Linked DNA regions of Homo sapiens: region 2 is linked to region 1. Evidence: fine-mapped expression QTL. A gene starts in region 1. The other region holds a variant in brackets. All regions are shown on one strand. Distances are between the middles of the regions. Region 1 holds the start of PRICKLE1 (prickle planar cell polarity protein 1). Region 2 overlaps LINC02450 (long intergenic non-protein coding RNA 2450).

What was found. PIP is the estimated chance that this variant, and not a neighbour inherited with it, causes the effect.
Region 2: its variant is fine-mapped to the expression of PRICKLE1 in whole blood (TOPMed, PIP above 0.99). The same link has a PIP of 0.9 or more in blood mononuclear cells and monocytes.

What each region holds. Positions count from the first base shown.
Region 1 is chr12:42,588,137-42,591,047 of GRCh38, forward strand. It overlaps PRICKLE1 (prickle planar cell polarity protein 1), which reads right to left and starts at 1,610. Exons shown (of 8, transcript NM_153026.3): 1 at 1,329-1,610. RefSeq lists a silencer at 1,614-1,863 and an enhancer at 2,333-2,890.
Region 2 is chr12:42,695,511-42,698,421 of GRCh38, forward strand. All of the region lies in intron 2 of LINC02450 (long intergenic non-protein coding RNA 2450), which reads left to right. Among named protein-coding and RNA genes, the nearest start is that of LINC02450, 4.8 kb to the left of the region's middle. RefSeq lists a silencer at 198-277. The variant T/C (reference allele first, on the strand shown) is at 1,389.

The DNA.
Region 1 (2,911 bases):
CAACAGCTGAGCTCACACATCTGGAGCCGGACTACGGCAAACATTAGCAACCCTCACCAGTCTACACCTTGGGCCTGTCTGAAAAGACAGATGGAAGTTCCCTCTACTCCTAAAGTACATTAAAAAATGTCTGATGGTGAACCACATCAATTATATAACATCAACTGCAGGCACAGCCTTCCAAAGTACTGATTAAGACGAGGCAGTAGACAACACTGTATGCATGAACAGATACAAGATACCATTTCAGTGATTTGTCATTCATAAAACTTATCCTAAAAGACACATATACATGCATCCATTTGATAGCACAAATGCATGTTAACTCTGCAGGAGAGGCAGATTTTTACATGTTTTTTTGGTTGTAGTTGTTGGTGCTTTTTTTTTTTCCTTTAGGCTGGTTCCCGTGGTGTGTTTGCCTTGTTCATGGTCTCAGTTCTGCCGCTGATACCCTTTTAAAAATCAGCAACCAAACGCGTTCGGCTTGTGATCCTGAACCCTCCTTAGGCAAGCTGGAACTAAGCGTGATGCAGCCGTCCTCCCTCTCTCCCAACCCCCAACCTCGTTCTTCAGCCTCCTGAAGACAATCTGTGAACAATTTTCCCAAAGTCCCAAGAATAACACAGCACTGCCAATAGTCACTGGCGATGCCGTTTGTTTTTCTTAGAGGGTAATGAAAATTTAACAGCTTTCTGCTGCATCCTGAGTCCCGCTCCTAATAACTATTAACATGCCTAGTTTCTTCAACTTTTTCTACCTCAAGAGAGGAAGACGCTCCCATTTTTTCCCTATATCTGTGCTACATTCAGCAAACACCATCGCGGGGCAGGGGGTTGGGGAGAGTGGTGGGAGTTGATTCGCCTCTGCCAAAAAGCCACCAGCCCCTTTCCCCAGCGCTAGAGGAGAGAATCGGTACCCTCCCTCCGGACGCCAGTAGGTGACAGGCGATCCTAAGCGGCGGGAACACGCCAACGCACCCTCGCCTCCCGGCGCCCCGCATCGCCTCGACCCTCGGGCTACAGAACCTGTTTCCACGCCGGAGAAAACCAAGGGAAGAGTTGGTTGTGATGCAGCAAACAGGAGCCATGCGGAGAGCCTCTGCGGAGCCCTGGCGATGCTGCAGCCAATATCTGCTTTCCCTGTCTACACAGCCCAACAAACCGATTATGACCTTCTCCCTGATCTTCTGCGACACCGACCCAGTCTGGGTGTCACAGACTCCGGCGGTGCCAGCGAAGGTGCCCGGCCCTACCCCTGCGGCGCTCGCCCCCCACCACCGCGCCGCAGCCCCCTCTGCGGAATCCGCCGGGATCCAGGCTGCCACTCACCTCGCGCGAGGGAGACGCAACTCGGCTGCACTGTCCTCGGCGCCGCTGCGGGGCTGCTGGGCTGCGGGGCTGCGGGGCTGAGGAGCTGCGGTCCGCGGCGTCAGGGGTGGGCGAGGGTGAGCAGCGCACGAACCATCCAGAGCCCAGAAAGTCTCCGTGCCGACCGCGGCGCGTCTCGGGGAAGTCAGCGCAGGCTGCGCGAGGCTGGCATGTTCCGGGCGCGCTGTCGGGCGGCGGCGGCCGCGGGAGACGGCGCTGGCAGCTGGGCTGCAGGCGGAGTGCGCTCGGGCTCCGGAGCCGCGCGCTGCGGCGCCGCCGCGCACCCCGCCCTCGGCCGCGGGGCCCGGCGCGAGCGAAAACGCGGAGCGCGGACGCCGCCGCGGGATCGAGGCCGCTGGGCGCGCGCCCACGCGTACCCCGGCTCGGCCCTGAAAGCGAGGTCGGGCCCGGCTCGGGCCGCGCCCGGGGGCAGGGCTGCGAGCAGGCCTGGGACCGGCTCCACGCGCAGCCAGTGGGGCAGAGCAGCAGGCGGATTATGCGCAGGGAGAAAAAAGTTCACCAACCGCGGTCCAGAGTCGCAAGTGCGGCTCGCTCGGAGCCTCTGCCCCGCCCCCGATTATAAGCCTTTTTTTTTTTTTTTTTTTAACCAACAATCCCGATGGACTGAAACACAGGAAGAGTGAAGGGACGGGGTGGGGGGTGGGGGAGAGACAAACCCAATTTCCTCTGATCAAACGATTTGGGTAGGGGTGCCTATTTGAGTTCCTTCTCCTTCGGGGGGTGTGTGAAGGGGGCAGTTAATTAAACACTTAGATTCCTTCCGGCGCGCCTTGCCGAGCTGGGGACCCGTTTGGACTCGATCCTGTCTCGTGTAATCCCACAGGCTGGTCTGAGTCTCTGCCCCGGAACCGGAGGAGTGATCTTTCAGAGCAAGAAGCCAAAGTTCAGCCTCTAGTCCGTTCCCTTCCCCGCCTCGACGGCCCTGGTCGTCTCCATGAAAACTCAGTGTGGGGGATCGTGCCCGCGAAAACCTCAGCCCACCGCAATGTCCAGAGCCTGACCCAAGTGAACGTGGCGCACTTAAAAGCGGGTTCAAAGCATTGATCCGAACACGGTGACAATTTTTCACTGGCCAAACTACTCTCCACATTTTCAGTCTGCTCAATTCCCAGAGCTGGGCTCTCAGGCGCACTCACCCACGTTGAACTGGGGCTCAGCCTGTTTGAAAGTTCTGCCCTGACATTTGTGTCACACTAAACCTTAGAACCCCCCACCCTCTCCAGTTCCGGATCGGTGGAGTCTCACCGTGTGGGTACTATTTCCCTGGACTGCAGAGGGCAGACACAGGCGGCAGCTGTTAACCCGAACTTGACAGGTGCCTCTGCAAAGCCAGGGCTTCCTTGACCTCTCCATCCTCTCCACAACGCTCTAGGATACTGTATCATCTTCCAGGAAGATGAGGATGTGTGTGGGGGGAGTGTGGAGGGAGGTGTTGACTGATGCAATTTTTATCCTTTTAAGAAAAATCAAAACTGCCAGTCTCAGAATTTCTCAGAACATCAAGTCTTTTCGATTTTCGTTGG
Region 2 (2,911 bases), 110 kb after region 1:
TTTTCTGCAGCAGATGGGAGATTGAAAGTACCTCTGATTGGTTTGCTTTTTGCAACCAATCAGACATTTGCATAGGAGTGTCACTTTGTAACTTCACTTTAGCCTCTGACTGGTTGCTTCCCACAACCAATCAGACGTTTGCATGGGAGTGTGACCTTTATAACTTCACTTCAGCCCCTGATTGGTTGCTTTCCGCAACCAATCAGACTGATTGTGGGCCACCACCTCATTTACATGAGGTGAACGCCTAGTGGCCAATGGGAAACCTCTAGGAGGTATTTGGCCCTGAGAAGATTCTGTATCAGGGGCCCTTGAGCTGCTGCTGGGGCCTGCTCCCACACTTTCACTTTCTATTTCTTTCACTTTTCTATCTCTGCTTTGGTTGCTTCATTCTTCCTTGCTTTGCTGTGTTTTGTCCAATTCTTTGTTCCGAACGCTAAGAACCTGGACAACTTGCTGTAAAGACCCTCTACTGATAAAACCAGAATCCACGAGAATAATAAAATAATTGTTTCATGCCATCAAGTTTGGGAGTGGTTTGTTACACAGCAATAGCTAACCAGAACAAGTTGGGAGGATTTATCTACACCAAACCTGTTTTTAACATTTTAGTAAGGTTGTAAAGAAAATTTGAATAGTATTATTTCTATTGTTTCAATAGCTTTAAATCATGATGGCAAGCTGTAGTTATTTGTTTACTGAAACTTCAGAGCAAAATAGACTAAGAATTATTGGAAATTTATACTTTTTTCATGTAGGATCAAATATCATGAAGGGAATTGTCATTTTCATTCCCACATCATCTCCTTAGATTTTGAGTAGAGGGGCTGGCTGTATTCCTGTTGGCTTCTACTTCTACAAGGAATGAGAATTGAGCCTCTCCATTCTTAATGTCTTCAGAGTGGGATCCCACACATGAACTGTTCTAGCAACTCCTCTCTCTGGCATTCAGTCTTTCAGAACCAGAGGCAGGCAGAAAGCAGATGCTCTGTGGATAATTTGGGAAGAGACAGTGGAAGAATTTTATCACTTTGCAGCTCTAAAAGATACTTCAGACTATTGGCTTTTTCTGAACCCAGATGTTTCAGCTCTGTGGTTTATCTCCTTGTCTGTTCAAGAAGATTGTAAGATCTCTCATGAGCTTTCTCTCTTGAAACCTCGGGGCCTTTGCTTGAATGATTTACTTTACCCAGAATGGCTCCTTTCAATCCCTAGCCTTCTAAGTCCAGTAGAAATTCCACCTCTTTCATGAAAGTTTTGTGAGTTAGCGGCAACACTTCAGACTTCTTAGCACTTTGTTGGCACTTCTTTTAGAATTCTTAACGCCGCCAATGCCTGTTTCCCTGATGAGATCGCGATGCCATTCTTGGCGGGGTTTCCATCTTGTT[T/C]TCCTTCCTGACCCCTACTGTGGTTTCTCAGGAAATGCTCGTTGAATTTCATAAGACGACCCGGGGGAGTGCCAAAATTGTGCAATCAGAGTCAAGACACTTGGCTCCCAGTTTGAGGTCTGAGCCAGGTCTGTCAAGAGGAGATTCTGAAAATGGTCTTGTGACCCCAGAAGATTCTTCATGCTACTGGGCCTCCTCAGCTTGCTCCTCTGTAAAGTGAGACATTCAGAGCAAGGCAGTGGTTCTTAACTAGGTACACTTTTTCAACACCACGGGTGCCCAGAGGGTCTGATACATCCTTGGTTGTACAACCTTGGCTGGATTTACAATTTATAAGATGCCTTCCCATTTCAGTAATATATGGGGGCTGTTGGATATTGCTGTAGCCTGTGGAGTTAGATGGAAGGAAGTAAGCAGATTGGAATTACAGGTTAGGATTTCAGAGACATAACAAAAAAAAAAATCCTCTGAATAATAATAGCTAATATTTATGAACCGGGTGCTGTGCTGGGCTTGGAATGCCTTATTTTATTTACTAGGCACACAATGCCCTTATGGGGCAGGCACTACTATTATCCCGTTTTATAGATAAACTGGGGTTTAGTGAGGTCAAATAATGATCCAAGTTGCTGAACTAGGTTGCTAAGCACCGGAACTGAGATCAAACCCAGGCTCTCTGACTTCCGAACCTGTATTCCTAACTACTCCCTGGCTGCCTTTCTCTTAGTTTTTGCTTTTATTGTGTGGAGCTGATCGTATGTTTATTAAGTATTGACTTTATCAGTCTTTGCAATTCCACTCTATGTTCTGTATAATATTTGGTTACTGGTAGTTAGGAAGTGATGTTCACTTACAACAATCTTTTATAGAGATAGTGCATGGAGGCGTGGTTGGGCCGTTTAATTTTTGAAAATTGCAGCATACCATACCAGATTCACGAAAAGGTGGCGTCATTTTATTCTTTCACACATACAGTCATGAGTAGCTTAATGAGAGGGATACATTCTGAGAAATGCATCACTAGGCAATTTTGTCATTGTGTGAACATCATAGAATGTACTTACACAAACCTAGATGGTATAGCCTATTGCTTCTTGGCTACAAACCTGTACAGCATGTTACTGAACTGAATACTGTAGGCAATTGTAACACAATGGCATTTTTGCATGTAAACATACCTAAACAGAAAAGGTATGGTAAAAATATGGTGGTATAATCTTACGAGGAGCACTGTTGTATATATGGTTTGTCATTGGTGGAAAGGAATTTGAAAGGAATTTACTTTCTGAAGGGAATACCTGGAGTTAAAAGAACATCTGGTGTTACAAGGTCATCAAAGACCAGGAAATGTATCAAGTCTTCTGGAAACTCACCCAGAGTTCTCATTAGTGATGAGGGAATTGCTATTCTGTAACTGCATAGATGGAACAATGATAACTCATATCCATTGCAAAATGTTTCACCCCACAGAGTGATTAAGCAATTGGTATTTATTGCACCCAAGATATTGTTCACGTTTCTAT